Regions from separate parts of the Homo sapiens genome. Here region 1 is linked to region 2. A link means that fine-mapping ties the variant in region 2 to the expression of a gene that starts in the linked region. Tissue or cell type: whole blood. Region 2 holds a variant in brackets; the other region holds the start of a gene. All regions are shown on one strand. Distances are between the middles of the regions.

Region 1 (9,131 bases), 36 kb after region 2:
ACCGTGGAGGGAGGCTGAGACTGCCAGCGCCCACACCCGTGGGCCCCCATGAAGTTGGAGGAAAGTTCTGGACAGTTAAAAATCCAGCTTCAGGAAGTCGAAGGGACGGGCCTTCGCAATCCACCGCCGAGCAAGGGAGGAATTGTAATGTATGGGGGCCCTCCTCCAGATTTGGAAGGTTTGTGGAGTTCTGTACCTTAAGAGCCCCTACCTCAAGCCAGGAAAGAAAGGGAGGGGACAGAAGGAGGGGGAGGGGGCAAAAGGAGGAGGCGGGAAGTGACCCTGGCAGCGCAGCCCTAGTCGCACCCCGCAGTGCTGAACTCGCCCCGGAGCTGGCGCCCAGCCGTCCCGAGCACCCGTGGTAGGGAGAGGCGCGCGAGGACGACCAGGAGCGCTGTGCGGTTGCACACCAGTTTTAGCTCCTTTGCAATACTCCGAAAAGGGCAAGAAGGAAAAGCCTCAAATGGTTAAACCGCCCTAAATAATTAAAAACTTTTGAAAAAGAAAAACGCGTGATCGGTCGTCATTTAAATACAAATATACTTACAAAAATCTTACACAGGCTATTTACAATCATAAAAGCGAACAGTCCTGGTACCAGAGTGTGAGGGCAAGAGGTCTGTCCATCCTCCCTCTGGCAGTCGGGCCCTCGTGTCCTTTTGCCTCAGGGACGGAAGCTTTTGCAGGAGCTGAGTTGTTCAAAGGAGCCTGCGAAAGAGAGTTGTCTAGTGAGGAAACCTCGAGATGTCAGGATTGGCACGAACTCCACGGCGCTGGCTTTGGGGGATCGCTGCGCCCCGGCCGAGGCCTGGGCATGGGCTGAGCCCCGGGTCTCAGACTGTAGTCTCCCCTTGTTTGCTGTTGGTGAGCCTCGTGTAGAACTTCCTCCAGGAGTTGAGGGTCTTGCCGGACCAGATCCAGAAGCCCGACGTGATGCCCACGATCAGCGTCATAAGGTACTTAATCATGAAGACCGTGAAGTCCGGGCTCATGGGCGGGTGCGGCGGGGCGCCTCCGCCCGCCTGGAGGTGAGGGCAGGGGATAGCGTAGCTCTTGCAGCTCTGGGCCACCCAGCTGCGTTCCCACTGGTCCCGGAAGGCCTGCTCGTAGAAGTAGCAGGCGATGACGATGGTGGCTGGCACAGTGTACAGCACGCTGAAGACGCCAATGCGCACCATGAGCTTCTCCAGCTTCTCGGTCTTGGTGCCATCGTGCTTCATGATGGTGCGGATGCGGAAGAGCGACACAAAGCCGGCCAGCAGAAAGGACGTGCCGATAAACAGGTACACGAAGAGGGGCGCCAGCACGAAGCCACGCAGCGCGTCCACGTTGTTAAGCCCCACGAAGCACACTCCGCTCAGCACATCGCCGTCCACCTGGCCCAGCGCCAGGATGGTGATGGTCTTGATGGCCGGCACAGCCCAGGCGGCCAGGTGAAAATACTGTGAGTTGGCTTCGATGGCCTCGTGGCCCCACTTCATGCCAGCCGCCAGGAACCAGGTGAGCGACAGGATCACCCACCAGATGGAGCTGGCCATGCTGAAGAAGTAGAGCATCATGAAGAGGATGGTGCAGCCCTCCTTCTTGGTGCCCTGCGCCACAGTGCGTGCCCCGTCCTCGGCGAACTTGTCATTACACACCACTCGGTCTTCCAGGAGGAAGCCGGCGATGTAGGCCACGGCCACGGCCGTGTAACAGCCGGACAAGAAGATGATGGGCCGCTCCGGGTAGCTGAAGCGCCGCATGTCCACCAGGTACGTAAGCACCGTGAAGAGCGTGGAGGCGCAGCACAGCACTGACCAAATGCCAATCCAGGTGCGCGAGAAGCGCAGCTCCTCGGGCCCGAAGTACATGAGCCCATACACCTTGGTCGGCTCACAAGGTGCGCCGCAGTCCTTCTCCCCCAGGAAGTGGTAGTTGAGGTAGGAGGGCACCTTGAGGGCGCGCGGGCAGGAGAACTTGCCTCGCTCCGACGCGCCGGCGCCCCCCGGGAAGCCGCCACGGTGCCCTCCGCCGCCGTGCTGAGGGTTGCTGGTCCAGAACTCTGGAAGCAGCGAGGGCGTCGGGGTGCCCTTGTCGGACGTGTTCTGGCCCACGCACAGCTCGCCGGCGCCGTGCACCGGGAACTTCTCACACTTGAGCGTGTCTGGCCACTGGAAGCCGAACTTGTTCATGAGCGCCTCGCAGCCCTGGCGCGCGCGCTCGCACAGGGAGCGGCAGGGCGGCAGCGCCTGCTCTAGCACGGTGCACACGGGCGCGTACATGGAGCACAGGAAGAACTTGAGCTCAGCGGAACACTGCACTTTCACTAGAGGGTAGAACTGGTGCACCTCCAGGCCCGCGTCCTCCTGGTTCGTGTGGCCCAGCAGGTTGGGCATGATGGTCTGGTTGTACGCGATGTCCGTGCACAGCGGGATGGAGATGGGCTGGCAATAGCCGTGGTCCGGGACGGAGATGCCCCGCTCGCCGTTGTACTGCTGCCCGCTCTGTTGCTGCTGAGGCGGCGGCGGCGGTTGCTGCCCCGGCCCGGGCCCCTGGCCTGGCCCCTGGCCCGCCGCCTGGGCCCGGACCCCCAGCAGCAGCGGAGCCTCCAGCAGCCAAAGCAGCAGCAGCAGCTGGCGCGCCAATCGCCGGGGGTCAACTGGCGGGCGGCGGCGGCCACCGGCGTCCCCGCTGCCCTCCTCCGCCAGCCGGGCCGAGAGCGCCCCGGCACAAAGTTCCCAGCTCGCGCCACCGCCGGCGGCCCGGGACTTCTTAGGCGCCTCCTCCTCAGCCATACTTTCTCGGCTCCTCTCTTGGCGCCGCTCCGCTGGGGCTGCCAGGGGCACGGCCGGCGGCGGCTCCCCCTGCGGCCAGGGAGACCTCTGCGCGGGTGCCCTCCGTCGAGCCCAAGCCGCTTTCGGCCCGCTCCCCCGGCTCCTGTTCTGCGTACCGCAGCCGCCGCCGCCGCGGAAACTTGCGATTCATGAAGCGCGGGCGGCGGGGAGAACCCGGGTGGCTAGGGCGCGCCGGGGTCGTGTCCCGCCTTCCTGGCCCTCGGCTCGCTGGCTCCCGGCTGGCGGCGCCGCGCTAGTGGCCGCGGCCCCGTAGAGAGCGCAACTCTCCGCAGCCCAGCGGGCTCGGCTCCCCCCTGCGCCTCCGCCTCCTTCTCCGCCGCCGCCGCCTGACCATTTGTGTCAATCCCTCAACTCGCTCCCTCTCCTCTGCCTCGCGCGCCCTCGGACCGGTTTCCAGGCGCCCCGTAGTCTGTCTTTCACCAGGAGGGAGGAGCCTTGAAACCGACGCAGAACTGGAGGCTCAGGGACCGTCGCCCAATCGCGGCTCCGGCTTCCCGGCGCAAAGGGAGCCGGCCGCCTCCTCGCCAGAGCGAAAGCCAGCGGCAGGAGGGCGGGGTAGGAGGAGGCGGGAGGAGGAGGAAGTAGTGGTGGTGGCACTACTCAGGCACAAAGAGTAGGATTGCTCTGAAGCGGGACAGGCTTGGTTGCTTTTGCTTTTTCAGAAGAAAAAGGCGAGGATACGTAGGAGAATGGTCCCATATGCTGCTGGAGATAATGAATAGGAGTCAGAGGACCGCGGGACTTCGCTTTTCTTTTATTTTATCCATTATCATGTTTAAAAATCCTGCTCTTAACGCTGGTTACCAACAGCAAACCGGGTTCTGCTTCCAGAACAGATGCCTTTGACTTAAGGAGCGCACGGTTTCCTTTGAGTTTGTGTCTGTCGAGGTTTTGTTTAACATATTACATTAATAAATCCTCCAGTTCGCAGGCTGGGCTTGGCGGGCTTTGGTCGCGCCATTTCCCCAGAGGAGACGTTCACGGGATCGCTGTCAAATGAAACAAAACACAAACTTTGATGGAATTTGGAAAGTAAAGCCAGATGCGCCTTCTGCTACTATCATTCTTCTTGGAGTCAAACTCCTTTTTTTCCGCCTCTTTAATCAAGTCAGAAACAGAAGCAAAAGAAAACTATCCATTAAATTTTTGGAGAGAAAAACTTAAGAACCCGACGACCGAGGCAGTGGGGGCGCCTCTCTGGGATCGTCCTCGCCGCTCCAGACCGCAGAGGTGGCGCCGGCGGGAGCTGCACTCGCCGGCAGCTTGGGCCCCTGGGGAGCCTTTCTAAACCCTGGGGACGCCCACGGCTCCGATGGGAACTCCTGGGACCTGGGCCATTTAGGTTCCACAGGCTGGGCTGCAGAGCTGGAGACGCCAGTTTAATAAACAAAACAAACAAACAGTCTGAAAGCAAACAGCGAACTGCACATTCTCTTCCTAATTCCAAAACAGCATAATCCGTCTCAACAGACGCACATTAATGTTGTTTTCCTTGTAAGATTATTTTAAATGATGGTTTGACTATGTAATTCAGTTTTATAAGAAAAGTGCCATTGGACTATTAATTCTTCCATTTTTTTTTTTTTTTTGCCTGTGATCAGACTCTATCTCAGCGTACTTTTCACCAATTACTTTCTATCATTCATTTACACATTCATTTGTTTAATAGATACCAACCACCCATTGTGCTATAAGCACTCTTAGGTCGTAGAGTATAAAATGAAGGAGACCTGTGCCAGCCTTAGAGAGGGGCATAGTACAGTGAGGCACAGAAATGCAAATCACTTGTTACAGTGTCCATCCCAAAGCCAAAAAGGCACATAGAAAGCAACCAGCTCAGATGAAATGGGGTTCTGACGGAGAGGTAGGTGCAAGGTGCAAAAGATTAAAGCTCAAATTCACTTGAATTGCTGAAGGGGGCCAGAGAGGTGAGTGTAGCTGAGGCACTTTGAGGGGAGGCAGGAGAAAAGGTTTTAATCCAGACTAAAACGTTTGGGCCAAATTATACAGAAAATAGAAAACTATTGAAGGTCACTTTCCCCACATAAGCAGGGAGTGATTCCAGGGTGACTGAAAGAGGGCACCTGAGGCAGGCTGTCATTAGGAAGCTTTAACATTCATCTACACATAAAGGTTACTACTTAGATGGGTGTTACTTGTACTACATGCTAACAAGTCTCTGAGAATTTCACTACCCAGCATGTTGGTGTCTATAAAGAAGGTGCAGTCATATCTTTACCTGCTAAAGCAAAATGACATCTGTTTGTCTCAGATACATATGTTATTGTTTTTCAAATGTTTATATAAGCAGTACCTTCATAAAATGCATTTTTGCTTTAAAGTATTTGATTGCTAGCATTTTTTTAAAGCAACAGGTACTAAATGCACAATTATGTGAGCATGTGTACGTGTGTTGACTGTAATTTATGACACATTTTGATATTGAAAAGGAGGTTGGGAAGCACAGCTCTCTGAAGTCCTTTGAACCGTTCAATAAGTGTTCATTTTCACTCTAGCATCCTGGCCCCCAGGCTCCCAGGGACACTTTTTCTCTAGCCTTTCCACTCTGATGCTCATTCCTCTGCTGATAGTATCCCATGTTTAGGAACTTTATCAAGCCATCTCTCTCCTATCACTCCTGTCTTGGAAAGATTTAACCTGTCCTGTGTTCTATTCTCTCAAGTCATTCGAGCTGACTAGGCTGAGTGAAAAGTGAATTTATTCTGATGTGTTAATTACCAAGAAGCATCACGTGTTAAACATCCATCCATCCCTACCATCACTCCAAATCCTTCTCCTTCTCCCCTAAGGGGTTGGGGCACAGAGATATGGCAGAGCACTCAGTTCTGTTTCTCAGAGTAGAAGACACTCTCTTGCTTCAAAAGTTGTTCTACTGAAATTCTTGAACTTGTTTTATGTTTCACCTGACAGTGAAGTTTACTACGAGGAGGCTCAGAAGTACAGCTAGAGTTAGAGAGAGAGAGAGAAAAAATGTCATTCTTACCAGATTATGAAACTGGAAGCAACCAAAAATGTCATCGAGAAATGAGTTAATTTTCTGCAATCTACAATTAAGAATATTGGATCCAGAAATATTAAGGGATGTGCCTCACTTTAAATGGCCCTATTTGGCTTGAATTTCATTAGAAGCTTATTTTAATCCTTGTATGTTATTTTAAGTAGCTATAGTTCTTTTTATCTTTTTTTAAAAGTTAGTTTTCTGTGGAAGTTCTCCCTCAATAGAATGTGTAAATAAAAGACCTTATAACATTTTTAAAAAATCATTTTCTGAGAGTTGTCTTTCAAAGTTAAAAAAAACCAACAAACTTGATTTTCATTTATTATACAAATACAATATTTAATTTATCAAAACTATGTAATACAGAGGAAGGTACTAAAATCAGAAACAATTCCGAGTTTTAGTCAGTAATAACCAGGGTCATGAAAGGAGGTCTGTTGGGGGAGGTAATGAAGGCAATGGGTAACAAAATATTAGAAGACAAATATGAGCAGTGTATTTTAACAGAATATAAAATGTAATATTTTCTCAAGATGTGGAAAAGTTTGAGATCCACAGATCAAAATTACTAAGTAAGTATGAACTATTATGAACTTGGTAATAAAAATATTTCAGTTAGGTCAAAACTATAAACATAACCCAATTCTTCCTTGATACTGCTTTGTCAAGCATCAGACTCAGTCAAGTTTTCTCATATCAAAGATCTTGTTTTATCAGGCCTTTCCCAAATCTTCTGAAGTTTCTCCAGACTGCTTATGTCAGGTTGAATGTGGATAATTAGCAGGGATGGAGATCCAGTTCCAATTACATATAGTTGAGTGTACACAGACACACAGGCAGTTAGGTGAACGCTCCATGTGCAACCCAACCTGAAGGATCTTAAGCTTTTAGGTGAGTTGCTTTTTTGCTGGCTTGTGAGTGGCTGACTTGAATTGTCTTTGTTGAAGAATAGAGATTAACACAGGTTAAGACTATATTTTTGAACACCTACTGTGTATACTTGGTGTTATTTTGCACGATGTATCCATACGTTGTGTTGCTTAAACTTTGAGGAAGGTACTAATTATCTTATCCCTTTTTTTTTCTTTTTCTTTTTTTTTAGAGACAGGGTCCCATTCTGTCTCCCAAGCTGGCATGATCATAGGATCATAGTTCGCTGCAGCCTCAAACTCCTGGGCTTGAGCAGTCTTCCCACTTTAGCTTCACTAGTAGCTGGGACTACAGGTATGCACCATCATGCCCATCTAATTTTTTAATTTTTTGTGGAGACAGGGTTTTGCTGTGTTGCCCAGGCTGGTCTCAAACTCCTGGGCTCAGGCTGTCCTCCCACTCAGCCTCCCTATGTTATCTCCTTTTGATTGATGAAGAATTGAAGGCTCAAAACAATTAAGTAATTTGTACAAGATCCCATAGCCAGTAAGTGCCAGAGTGGGGCTTGTGTCTGACCAAGGTCCATGGACTTCCAGTTAGTAACATTATGTGATCATGTCCACTGAAAAAATTGTAGAAGAAAATGTGGTTTCTGGGAGCACACCAGATGATTGCTCGGTATTTAACATAGTTTTCTATACCAGGATATATATGCTAGGGGCTTAAATGCTGGGATTCACTAATGAGTTAGACCAGCATTTTCCAAACTGTGTTCTGTGAAATACAATATCTTCTCCAAAGGCATTCTGTGAAATAAATTTGTTCAAATAAGTTTGGAAAAAGGCCATATTCTGTGTCCTTATTGGAGATTCACATTAGCCTAATATAATCTCTGAGAATTGCTGAGCTTAAGAACCCTTTTAAACTTTTTTCTTATTTAGTATTTCCCACATTTGGAATATACATATACATACACACACTTGGAATACACACATGTATATACATACACACATACATAGACACACATATATATTACACTGCATCAATATTTTGCTTGACATTAATGCTCTGTGAGATTCAACTTGAAAAATGCTGAATTAGACCTACTATATTTTGAATTTTTATTTTATAAGGTTGGACTCTCACCCTATATTACTTTTGAATGTCAGTTGTAGAAAGTGAGAACTTGGCCTGCTATGCTTTGAGTTCCTGACTCTTCTTGAATTCCTAGTGAAGGGAAGTTGATTGCTTAGGGAGCTGATGGTGGTAGAGAAAACTCAGACCATACTATTCCCTTCTTTCTGGGTGGCACCACCTAGGGGTCTATTATATTGTCTTTGTAGAGACACATTAGGTATAACTCTACTAAAGCTTTCAGCATAGTTCTCTATTTCATTTCTTCTTGAATTTCCAACCCAGAAATTACTACATAAGCTATTTCTTATTTTCCATAACATCTGTATTCTTCTGCAACAATTCTAAAAATGAATGTCTTTTCTTTCTTTGTTTTTTCTTTCTTTCTCATACAAATCTGCTCTCGACATTGGTAAAATAGTTATTGAATTCATTCACACACAGAGGCTCAATTTGTAGACTCTCTTTAAAAATATATATATATATATTTATTTATCTATCTTTCTGTAAAACCACTTATCAAAAGAGATTTTCAGTGTGATTACCTTGACTTTTATCTTATAGAGTACTTACAGCTGATTGATATTAAGATCCTGATTGATATTAAGATCCTGAACTAACTTATTATTTGAGAGTCAGCCATAATTTGTTATAATTTACATTTTAAACATGGCAAGACTCAAAGATTTAATATAAAGGTGTGGCTCAGTAGTTCTAAATATGAATCATGGATTACTTGTACACAAATCTCACAAAACACATTTTTTATTTAAAAAAAAAAGATAAGAAGTATGAAAGGGGAAAAATCACCATCACTGAATTTTCATCAAGGTAGGATAATAATTAACCCAAATTTTCTTGTAATTAAAAGATTAAACTATAATAGGAGACTTTGCTAAATACATTACTTAAACATCAGTTTCGCCAAAAAAAAAAGTGCATATAAAAAGTACCTCATGACTCTGTTTTAATTAGTTCTGTTGTCATTGTCATTGTGCAATTGGAAATGGTGTACACTATCTGGGAAAACTTTTGTAGAACATACAGGCATTTATATTAGATTTAGAATGTAGTCCTTCTTCGAGGCCCTGGGAAAGAAATAGAGATGGGTCCTTGTAAATTAAAACCTTACGCCTCATGTGTTTAAAGAGGCCTCTCTGATTGGCTAAGATGTGGGGTGCTGAGTTTGCAATCATTTCAGTGCAGACATTTTAGGAGAATAAGTAAGACTTGTGCTTCTGTAAGTCAACATTTCTGTTCTCCCTTCTAGA
Region 2 (11,622 bases):
TATAAATGAAGGGCATATTTATGGATAAATACTGCATCAGAAAGATCAGAAAGAAAACCAATCACTCACTAATTTGTCTTCTTGGTAAATCTGGATTTTCGTCTGAAGCACAATGCACAGCTAAGCTTTCACATATTTTTTCAGAAATAAGAAAGTTGCCCTTTAAAAGTAGTTATAGGTTTTCTACCTCCATAGATAGAGAAAAAATTCACCTTTATAAGAAGACTTCTCTTTTCATTATGAGAAATAATTCTAACATGCATTTTCATTATGCAAAGTTAAAGCTAAAATGCTACTCTGGAATGGAGACAATTGGGACAAGTAGCTAAACTACTTTGCATAAAGATGTAAACATTTGACTTTACTGTGGTAAGAATTACATCTTGCAGCAATTAGCCTTTGCCACAATGGTGTATTACAAACAACTTCAAAATTCAGTGACTGAAAAAAATTATTTTGTTTCTCCAGATGTTTGAGTCAGCTGGGCAGGTTTTGCTTCACATTGCAGGTCTGCAGGTCTGGGTCTTCCTCACATGTCTTTCATCCTTTTTGGTCCCATTGAGTTATTCAGGGTACATTCCTCTCATGGTGATGGCAGAGGCACACCAAATGGCAAGCCCAACCACGCAAGCACTTTTCAAACTGCTTTTTGCATCACATCTGCTAACATTCTATTAGCCAAAGCAAAACACATAGTCCAGCCCAAAATTAAGAGGCTGAGAAGGACATTCCATCTTTAGTTGCAGAAAATGCAAAACTACCAGGCATAGAATGTAGACACAGGAAATAATAAAGAGTCAGATAAAATAATTCAACCTCTCAGACCCCATAAAGATATTGATTGAAATGTGTTTGAAACTGAGGGAAGGATTTGGGGTTTGCAGTTATTCTCAGTGGACCAGAGAAAGAAGAGATTTGAGAGTTCTCTGAGCAGCAGGCTATGAGACAGAGCACATTAAACAGGGAGGGCTCTTGAAATCAATACCTGTGAAAAGGAGTGAAAGGAAGCAAAACTGGGCAAAGGGAAAAGTTGAGCTTTGATGTGGTCTCAGCAAAGGGTTCAGGCAACTCCATGGGAAGTGTTGGAACTTGTGGCCCTTCAGAGTTGTCCCAAGTTGGGGCATGGTGTCCAGGCTTTTATATCTCTGCTCAGTCAATCTTCACAATACCTTTGCTTGATCAGGTCTTGTGTAATTTTGGCCATAGGCAATCTCCAATGAGGGCTGATAGGTGAGAACTGTCTTTTGGCAGCACTCACAGGAGTCTTCATTTTGAAGAAGATCTTGGTTGCAAAGCACTGCACCCTTACAGCAGCTACTATGTTCTAGGCACCATTCTAAGTGCTGGGGATATAGAAAAAGAACAAATGAATAAGAAAATGTATCACACGTCAGACGGTGCTGAATGTTACAGGGAGAAATAAAGCAGGGTCACTCAACTCCAGCCACATAGCATCCTTGAAATTATTCAAACCCACCATGTAAGTCCCCATTCCAGGGTCTTTGCTACCCATCACTTATGGCCCCACTCCCTTTAGGTCTTGGCTCAAGTGCTCCCTTCTCAATAAAGCATTGTATCACTATTCTGTTGTAAATGTCAGCGTCTCCAACATCCACCCATCCTAGCATTCCTGTCTCTCTTCTGCTACTGGCCAGTTTTCTCTGTTCTCCTAAAAAACCAGCACTCTGCTCCCCTGGCTACCTGCTGCCCTTCTGAGACTTGAATATCCTTGTTGGGGCCTTATAATGACTTCTTTTACTTTCTTTTTATTTCTCCTAAATAAGTAAAACATGGCAATATTAAGGAAGGAGAGTGATTACTTTGTGAGAGTTCCCCCATCCCCTACTCCTGCCCCATCCTACCCTATGCTCACCATTAAATAATAATTTTTCTCAACACTAGAAGTAAACTGGAAAAACATACAAATAGGAAACTCTGATTAAAACTGATCAGGTTTTTTTCTCTAAATCAAGTTATTTTCTCTGAAGAATAGAAACATGAAGCTTCATGTGAGGTGATTCAAACCAAAGTGACTGAAAATGGCTGCAGACAGTGTACACACACATGACTGGTTTCCTATGAGGCCGTTTTGCTTCCTTCTTCTGTGAGTACAGGCTTTCCTTAGCAAAATCCTCTCCCAGCAGGTCGAGCCCTGTTTCTGAGTGCTCCTTGACTAATGCAGGTATTTGTTTAGCTATTGCCCCTCCTGTCTTCCCAACTGGTTTCAAATGCTTTCATACTTGAAAATGATCTCTTTAAAATCACCCTGATTTTTCCCAACAGATTATTGTATTTGGAGTAATAGCATGAGCTGAGGCTGTATAACATGGGGTGGGGGAGAAGTTTAGGCAAACTTCTTACAGTTCGGTTTTCAGTGTGAGTTAAAAACAAACCAGCCAAGTGATAGAAATACATTTCAGACCCAAGGAAAAGATAAATGTCATCCTTTTTATGCTGTACAGTAAATGTGTGCAATTTATCTGTTTAAAAAACGTAGGCATTTCCAACCTGTAACATATAGGCATGGTCATTTATGCGAGTTAGGTATTTGATGCCTTTGCTAGCACAGCCATCTTCCTACCATTTTACTTTCCACTTCCTTTTCACTCCTAATCCCCAACCCCACCCCAGTATACCCATTCCAACCCACCACTCTTTATCCTCCAATCCACAAATTAAAGTATTTCTGCTGGGAGTTATATATTCCACTGCTCAACAGGAGTTCACCACTGAAATTCTTGTAACTGAAATATCCAGATGGTTGTTCTAATTTTTCACTTAGCTATTTGGCTTGCTTGGTTATTCTATCTCATTTTATTCATCCTCAAAACATTTTTGAAAGTTATGTTCTCTAAAGAATAGAAACATGAAGCTTCATGTGAGGGGATTCAAACCAAAGTTAGGAATTATAGTTCACTTCAGAAGGCAGGTTTTTCAAAACAAATATAGACTGAAGTAAGAAGGTTAACGTGCCTTTAAATGTTTGCCTTTTCTATATAAATAGGCTTATTATTTATTGAAGGTTTTTGAACAAATATTTATTGAATACTTACTATGTGTCAGACATTGTTCTCAGTGTTTAGAATATCTCAGTGAACAAAAAACGAAGACCCTGACACTGTGAAAGCTTAAGTTTGAGATAGGAATGCTGATAATAGACACAAGCATAATAAATAAATAAATTATGTAGCTTGTTAGAAGCTTTTTATACAATACAAGAAGCGTTTCCATATAATATGGGGAGGAAAAGAAGAAGGAAGGTACTATAATAGGAGAGCAGGAGGTGTTGGGGCACAATATAGCATAAAGAGGCAGAGCAGGCTTATTGAGAAGTGGTATTAGCATAAAGACTGAAGAGCTTTTCAGGCTAAAGTAACAGCCAATGCAAAGGGCCTGAGAGGGGAGTTTGTCTGGCATGTTTGAGGAACAACAAGGAGGCCAATGTGGCTAGAGCAGGGCAAATTGGGCAAAGAGAAAAAGGATCAGACAGGTAACTGGGATCCGAACACTTAGGGCCTAGCAGACCATTGTAAGGACTTTGGCTTTTACTCTGAATAAACTGGGAGCTGTTACAAAATTCTGAGCAGAGAAGTAGGGTATTTTTGGTTTTTTGTTTGTTTGTTTGAGACAGGGTCTCACTCTGTTGTCCAAGCTGGAGTATAGTGGTATAATTCTAGCTCACTGCAGTCTAGAATTCCTGGGCACAAGTGATCCTCCTACCTCAGCCACCTAAGTTGCTGGGACTACAGGTGCACACTACCATGTCTGGCTAATTTTTAATTTTGTTTGTAGAGAGAGGGTCTCCCTATGTTACCCTGGCTGATCTCAAACTCCTGGCTTCAAGCAATCCTCCTGCCTCAGCCTCCAAAAGTGTTGAGATTACAGGCGCAAGCCAGCAAGCCCCCCCACTGGGTCCATATTTAGGTTTAAAAGGGTCACTCTGGCTTCTGTGCTGAGACTAGATGGTGGGTAGAACAAAGATAGAAACAGAAAGGTTAGGAAGCTGATGACGGTGGTGCAGACCAAGGCGGCAGCAGAGGTAGCACTGAGAAATAGTCATGTTATGGATATAGGATGAAGGTAGAGCAAGAGATTTTCTGATGAATTGGATATGGAACATGAGAAAACTATGAGTCAAGAATGATCTCAAGGTTGTGACCTGAGCCCTGGGAAGATGGTGTTTCCATCAATTGAGATGGGAGTGGCCGCCAGAAGAACAAGTGAGGGGGCCATATTGGGAGTTCTGTTTTTGACATATTCAATTGAGACAACCAAATAAAGACGTTAGTAGATAACTGTATGTGAGCCTGGAGTCAGGAGAGAGGTGTGGGATGAAGAGGTAAATTTAGGAGTCTTAGGCATTTAAGTGGTATTTAAAGCCATGAGATTAGATGAAATCGCCTAAAAAAGGAAGTAAAGATAGAGAAGAAAAGAGAATCAAGAACTGAGCACTGGAGATCAACATTCAGAGGGAAGGTAGAAAAGGAGAAGTCAGCAAATGAGACAAAGAAGAAGCAGCTAGGAAGATAGGAGGAAATTCAAGACAGTGTGTTGTCCCAGAGCCAAACGAAGACGGGTCAAGTAAAATGAGAAGTGAGAATTGGCCACTGCAGTTAGCAACATGGAAGTCACTAGTGATCTTGACAAGAGCAGTTTCAGTGAAGGAGTCGAGGGAAGCAAAAGCCAGACTGGGGAGGATTCAGAAGATAATAAAGGAGAGGAATCAGAAATGGCTACTAAAGACATCCCTTTCAACAAGTTTTGAGGCAAGCAATCCAAAGAAATGAGGTGATAACTTGTAGGGAAAGATGGGAGAATAACAGCATGTCTGTAAGCTACTGGGAATGATCCAGTAGAGAAGAAACATTGTGATAATATAGGAGTCAGAAAAGATAATTGCTAAGGCAGTGTCCCGGATGGGAACTAGTCATGGCTGGAGGGACTGGCTTTAGTTAGCAAAATGGAGACCTTATCTATGATAGCAGGTGGGAATGTAGCAGATGAGAGGCAGATGGAATGAGTGTGGACATGTGATTATAAGGGTCAGGGGAAGTTCTCTTCTAATTGCTTCAGTTTTCTCAG[TG/G]AAGTAGAATGCAATATCATCAGCTAAGACAATACAGATGGGAGGAGGAAATGTCAGAGATTCGAGGAGAAAAAAGAGAATATCAAATAGTCAGTGAACGGGTGAACAAATGGACTAAAGAGGCGTAGGGTGATTAGTGGAATCAGGACGGGTTCACTTGAGTTTGTGCTTATGAATTTAAAGTGAGATCAATCAGCATGGTTGTGTTCTTTTCTTCTCCAGCTCCAGTAAGTTACCCAGGTGCAGATACAGAGAATGCAGAGAGTTTAATTTTAAAAACCTGTGGTTTTTTTCAAACAAGCATTAAAAAAAGTAGAAAAGCAGCAAGGAAATTTTTTTCCTTGAAGGTGTGTGCAATTGAGAGTGATTATTGAGGATGGAATTCAGCTGGGTATGGAGGGGAGTAAGGACGTGAAGTGGTGATGGACAGTGAAAGGGTGGTAGAAGAATTGGAGGTCCCAGTCAGGTTAGAGTATTAGAGAGAAAGTCGGGCAATGTTGATCACATGTAATACATGACATTGAGAGAACGAAATAGCATGGTCTAGCAAGGCCTGCCCATGGGAGTGGGGACTGCAGAGGGGAGGCCACACAATGAGGGAAAAAGAGGTCGGGGATCTAAGATCACAAGACACTAGAAAGATGATTCATGCATATGGAGATCACCAAGAAGTTAAAACCCCAAAAGGTAAATTAAGGAAAACAAAGTTATGCTACAACTGTGCAATGAAATATTATACAGTCATTAAAAACAGAATTTTGGAAAAAATAGTTAAAGACATGAAGAAATGATTAAAAAATGCTAAGGGAGTAGGGAATCCAAGATATTTAATTTTATATGTAGTACAATTCCATTTTCTTAAATATATCTTTGTGCATAGAGAAAAGACTTGAGGAAATAAAATGTCAGTGGTATTTATCTCTGGGTGAAATTTATTGTTTTCTATGTATCTTTATTATTTTCTAAATTTCCTACAAAAAAATAGGGAAAAAATCATTAACAAAAAACAACAAAAGAGAGTAAACATATTATCTCTGGTGCATTAAATTTCATAAGAGCATTTTTAAAAATAAATAATTTAGTCACAGCTCCCAGATTTCCCACTGTCTTCTGTGTGTTAGTTCACTTAGGTAATGTGAGATGTGACACAGTTTTACAGCCAATTTCTGAATTTTCTTTCATCTTCAGACGGTATTTTTTCCATATAAGAGTTTTCTTTTCAGTCAATTGAAACTCTAGAAAGTTGTGTTTCTGTCCAAAAGTTCTCCAAATGGAGATGTTCAAATTTGAAGTAAGCTTTCCTTCTAGAGAGGACACATGTCCTTTACAGAAAATATGGGAAAACAGTAGCTATGTTTCTAAAGCTTAAGCATCCAAATCTGGCATGGAAAACTAGAATGGTTATAACTTAGATTGCTTTAGTAGATGCTTCTCCCATTCAGGGATAAGTTGAGCGGATAGGCTTCAACTGTGGGGTCTTTGTCCTTTGGTAAGGTACACTGAAGTAAGCATATTTAAAGAGAATGTCAGTTAATTTTAAATTTGTAATTAAGTCTGGTTCAAAGTAAAAGTAAATACACACAAACGCACCCTTCTCTCCACCCCGGGAACAAAATACATGTTTGTGTTTGTGAACCTAGTGGTCGTCTTATGTTTCACTTTTAGTTTCAGCTTTTCCTAAAGGTTTTTATCCCTGACCTATTAAAAGAAACTCCACAGAGAAAAAGACCCCCCCCCTCCTTGACTCTCAATCAAGTAGATTTCTACCTGTCCTTCTCTCTAACATCCTCTGTAGTCTCATGTTGACAATAAAGAAATAGGTTAGGGAAGATAATATAAGAAAAGATTTAGGATTGAATCACATGACATTTGATTTGAAATTGTACAAAATTGTGAAAGCATTAATCTCATGCTGACTCGGTCTGAGGAAAAATCCCATTTATCATTTTGGAAATTTTTTTATTTTTAATTTAAACCAATTTACAATACAACTGACACAAGAAAACTAAAAAGAAAATGTGGCTGAATTTTAACCATTGAAAGTTCATGTTGTAATCTCTGCAGAAAAGTCTGGAGTAATTTTGAGAGGAAAGAAAACATTGTCTAAAAGCTGAAAAAATATCGCTTTTAAGCATGGAATTTCCTAAGTCATGAGAATCTGAAATCACACTGCTATTTCCCTGGCTACTAATTTCAAATCCTTGCCACTCTTGTCTGAAAACCTACTGCCTACAGCCTGGCCAGAACACGGGGTGGGGATGCTCATTTGTAAAAGGCTGCCTGTATCTCGCTTTGCCATCGCCCCATCCCTAACCACAAAGCCAAGATGAGTGAAAAAGAAGATCCCTATATTTACATCAGATTTACATTAGACCTTCAATTCAAACATACAAAGTGTGCAGTGACTAGGCAACTTATAGCCCTTCTTACCATAGGAACTTTATTCCACTTTTATGGTAGTATAACTAGCCTGAAGATGAGGGAAAGGCCTGAGAGGTCATCTAGAGCAGTGGTCCTCAACATTTTTGGCACCAGGGACTGGTATTATGGAAGACAATTTTTCCATGGACTGGAGAGCAGAGGAGGGGTGGCGGGGGTGGAGTGAGAAGATGGTTTTGGGATAATTCAAGCACATTCCATTTATTGTGCACTTTGTGCCTACTATTATTACATTGTAATATATAATGAAATAATTATACAACTCTCCATAAAGTAGAATTAGTGGGAGCCCTGAGCTTGTTTTCCTGCAACTAGACAGTTCCATATGGGAGTGATGGGAGACAGTGACAGATCATCAGGCATTAGATTCTCATAAGGGGTATGCAGCCTAGATCCCTCATATGCACAATTTACAACAGGGTTTGCCCTCCTGTGAGAATCTAATCTAATGCCACTGCTGATCTGATAGGAGGTGGAGCTCAAACAGTAATGTGAGCAATGGGGAGTGGCTGTAAAAAACAGATGAACCTTCTCTCCCTTGCCCCCCAGCCCAACTCCCCTGCTGTTGTGTGGCCCTGGTGTTTGGGGACCCCTGATCTAGAGCCCAATCTTGTAACTAGGAAGGCACATGACTCTCTCCAAGGTCAAGAGGCTGAATAGAAACACTTAAATGAAGACTTCAAAATTAGATTCTCTTGTGTACATGTATCTACAGTAGAGTGTTAAACACACATCTACCTTCACAGTATTCAAATCGCTCTTTACTAAGGATTTAAAGAAGCAAATTTTCAAAACTTGGCTATAGTTACTGGCTCAATCATTTGCTTACTATAAACTAGAATTCCTTCTTATTTAAATGTAACATTTCAATTGCAGGAGTTCAAATACATTGTGTCCTGAATAATCTTAAGGTACAAATATTTCAAAATAATACTTTAAATAGAAAAACCTGTCTTTGGTACATTAACACTGAATTTTTCCCTTTCTTCCTAAGCCAGCCATGAAATACCTACTGATTCTAAATGAAGTAAGAACTTGGTTATGTGATTCAAAAATGTCAAGAATCTCTGGCCTGCATGATCTAAGATAAATGGAAGTTTGTGCAACTAACATGATTTTGGTAAAATGTATTTTTTAATTAAAAGAGTCATATAATTATATTAAAAGCTGTTTATGTTAAAACCAAAATCAATACCAGTGATAATAACTAATACTTACGAAGTGATTACTAAGTGTTAGACATTGTGCCTAAAGATTTACTATATTATCTTGTTTTATACTTTCCACAATCCCTTGGGGATAGCTATGGTTATTAGGCTCATTTTACAGTTGGGGGAACTGAGCACTAGAAAAATTAAGGCATTTGCCGAGATAATAAGCTAGCAAGTGGCAGAATTGAGATTGGAGCCCAGGTAGTCTTAACCACTCTATCAACCAGCTCGCATAGAACAGTTATTAGCAAATAAGAAAAGTATGGCTTTGTATGAGTTTAGTTTTCAGTTAAATGGTGTGTTTCACTGATGGCTGATGTGATTAGCACCTTATAAACCTTGGAAATGTTGCTTGTCAAGCATGGAAAAGTAAAATATTTGTGCTTGCTATTCTGTTCCCAAGACTAATTTTTAAAATTCCATAATATGTTAAGGTAATAATAATGAAAAAATTAATTACATAAACAGGCCATTAGGTTAAAAGCCTACACAAGCATGACCTACCAATTTTCCAAACTGATGGTAGAAATTAGTATGTTGATGGACTTTAACCACTGCATAAAAATAACCCAACATGCCCTTGTAAATCATTGTCGAACTCATTACTCATTACAGATTGTACTTCTCATTATCATGCCACATGTAAAATCTTGACAAGATTTGTCTGACATCCAAACAAACTCTTATAACTAACTCAAGCAGCATGTTTCTATGGTATGTCAGCCCGCTGCAGGTGTTTCTCTATCACAATGAATAATTACATCAAACAAAGACAAGAAATATTCTAAAGCTGACAAAACCGCACATCTGAAATCTGTATTTTCTACCTCTTGGGAAATTAAAATCTACAAGTATAGGGGCTTCAGTGCCCATGTCTTGGGGCCATTCCAGGATTATAAAGAAAGATTTTTTTTTTTTGCAAACCCAAGTATTATAACAGTACAGGAAATTAAACTGTATTTATAGACTGGACACCAGCACACCAGCATGCTTTCTTAGCTCTTCAAATCTCCCAACAAAAATAAAAACACTAGCAATCAAATGGGTGAGCAAGAAATGACAAGTATTTTGACAGCTCTAGAATACTTTGAGGTATTTTTAGCATATTTCTGAGTCGTATTAGCTTAACCTGTTATAGAATATAAATGAGCCCATATGGCACAGATGTAATTATGCTCCATGTGAGAAATCCCTGTAGTAGGTTAAGGAGGGGGCTGGAAGAGAATACACCAGCCCCCACCTCCCTCCCCACCCTCTCCCCCTCACCACATGTGCCTTCTGGAGGGCATGATTTACACATCATTTGCATTGAGAAGAATATGAAGAAACACAATGCTAACAACACAGTACTGAAAAGGGCAAGCAAAAGATTGGGGATCCCTAAGGGTGCTGCTCTCTGTGACTGACATCCGGTTAGGAGTAGAGGCAGTTTCCCCTGGGGATCACATTTGATGAAGCGATCTTTGATTATGTAGGCACAGCAATCATAAGGCATAATTATTATTACTGCAAAAGAATGGGCAACAAATCTCTGGGGAAAGCCTCTGTCACAGACACTTTGCTGGCGCACGCTGGAAGCGAATGTTCTCCCAAGGATCATTTTCATTCCAACCTGATATTTAGCTGAAGCTTCTTTGACTACCAGTCATGAAACATTAAATATAGATTAGAGCCAGAGAGATGTTGAAAGTTGAAATTCACCGGAGGTGCAAGCTTGTGTCCTTGAGAAACAACCTTGAATGCTGTCCAGATGTTGTAGCAGCAAGGCAGAATGGTCCCAAGCTGCAAGGAGCCAGCCACAGAGGAAAGAGGAGATGTTTAGCATTCTACCAGCCTTCTGTTTGCTTTATCTGTACTACATTAATTTAGCAGAGAATCCTAACAGGCTGTTAGTGGTAGATGTTGCAAAGTGTTCACTATCCCGAAAGAATGAAGAAATGCTTTTGCGCCAAGAAGAGGAGTAATTCAAAGCACGTAATTGATTTTCTACAGTTTCAAACTGTGATAAGACTAAGGTCTAGCAACAGAAACATATCTTAGCAGTTTTGTCTGTGTTTCTCGATGAAATAAAAAAAGAGAACCCCCATAACTAGTAGATGGTTAACTTACTTTGAACATCTCACTAGATATTAACAGATATTGCAGTGGAATTTGGAATAAATTGGTTTGATTTGGAATGGTTTGCAGAAGGCAGCTGTGCTGTAGGAAGCAAAATTCATTGCCCAGGTGTGTGATGGAAACACCTTTCCCATTTCCTCAAGGAACTGGGTGTGCTGCACTTACATTCAAGACTCTCTCCACTCCCCTTACCTCACCCACTTTTGCAGAACATGAATCAGAGGGAGGCTCTTCTGGTATTAGTTAGCAGGCAACACGCTTCACTCAGGGAAAACTCTTGCTCACTATTATTCCCAGCAAATGAGAGATATTAAGCCAGTCACCCTAGAGGCAACTGACCAGCTGTTCTTCTTGTTCATGGGAAACAGAGGAGATGAGGAGGTGAGCACCAGGTAGGGATAGGAAGTGAGACCTAGGAACTCCTTGCCGATGAGGGCTGACAAGTGCTGGCTTGGATGAACAAAGAGTTTTTATTCCCATAGACCTTTAGAAACAGGAGGTACTGGTTAGTTCCTCAGGTCTTTCTGGAAGTGAAGAGCTGGATTAGATGACATGTAAGACCACCCCCTCTTTTCCAGCTCTCTTTTGCCTTCTAGCAAACTAGCAAACGAAAATTCTCAATCTCTCTCCCACCAAAAAAAAAAAAAAAAAAAAAAAAGGGAGGAGAACCAGAAGCTTTGTCTGAAGTTGCAACAGTCACTGGGGGTCTCTCATCATAGTGCTTCAGGGCCTAAGGTGATCATTAACAGTCAGCAAGGCAAGTTCCCTGAG

What was found. PIP is the estimated chance that this variant, and not a neighbour inherited with it, causes the effect.
Region 1: it holds the start of FZD1, and the variant in region 2 is fine-mapped to the expression of FZD1 in whole blood (TOPMed, PIP 0.94).

What each region holds. Positions count from the first base shown.
Region 1 is chr7:91,258,527-91,267,657 of GRCh38, reverse strand. It overlaps FZD1 (frizzled class receptor 1), which reads right to left and starts at 3,225. Exons shown (of 1, transcript NM_003505.2): 1 at 1-3,225. The coding sequence starts at 2,777. The coding sequence ends at 834. RefSeq lists silencers at 2,481-2,540, 2,631-3,140 and an enhancer at 3,261-3,440.
Region 2 is chr7:91,293,490-91,305,111 of GRCh38, reverse strand. No RefSeq gene overlaps it. Among named protein-coding and RNA genes, the nearest start is that of LINC02932, 12 kb to the left of the region's middle. RefSeq lists an enhancer at 8,968-10,973. The variant TG/G (reference allele first, on the strand shown) is at 5,083.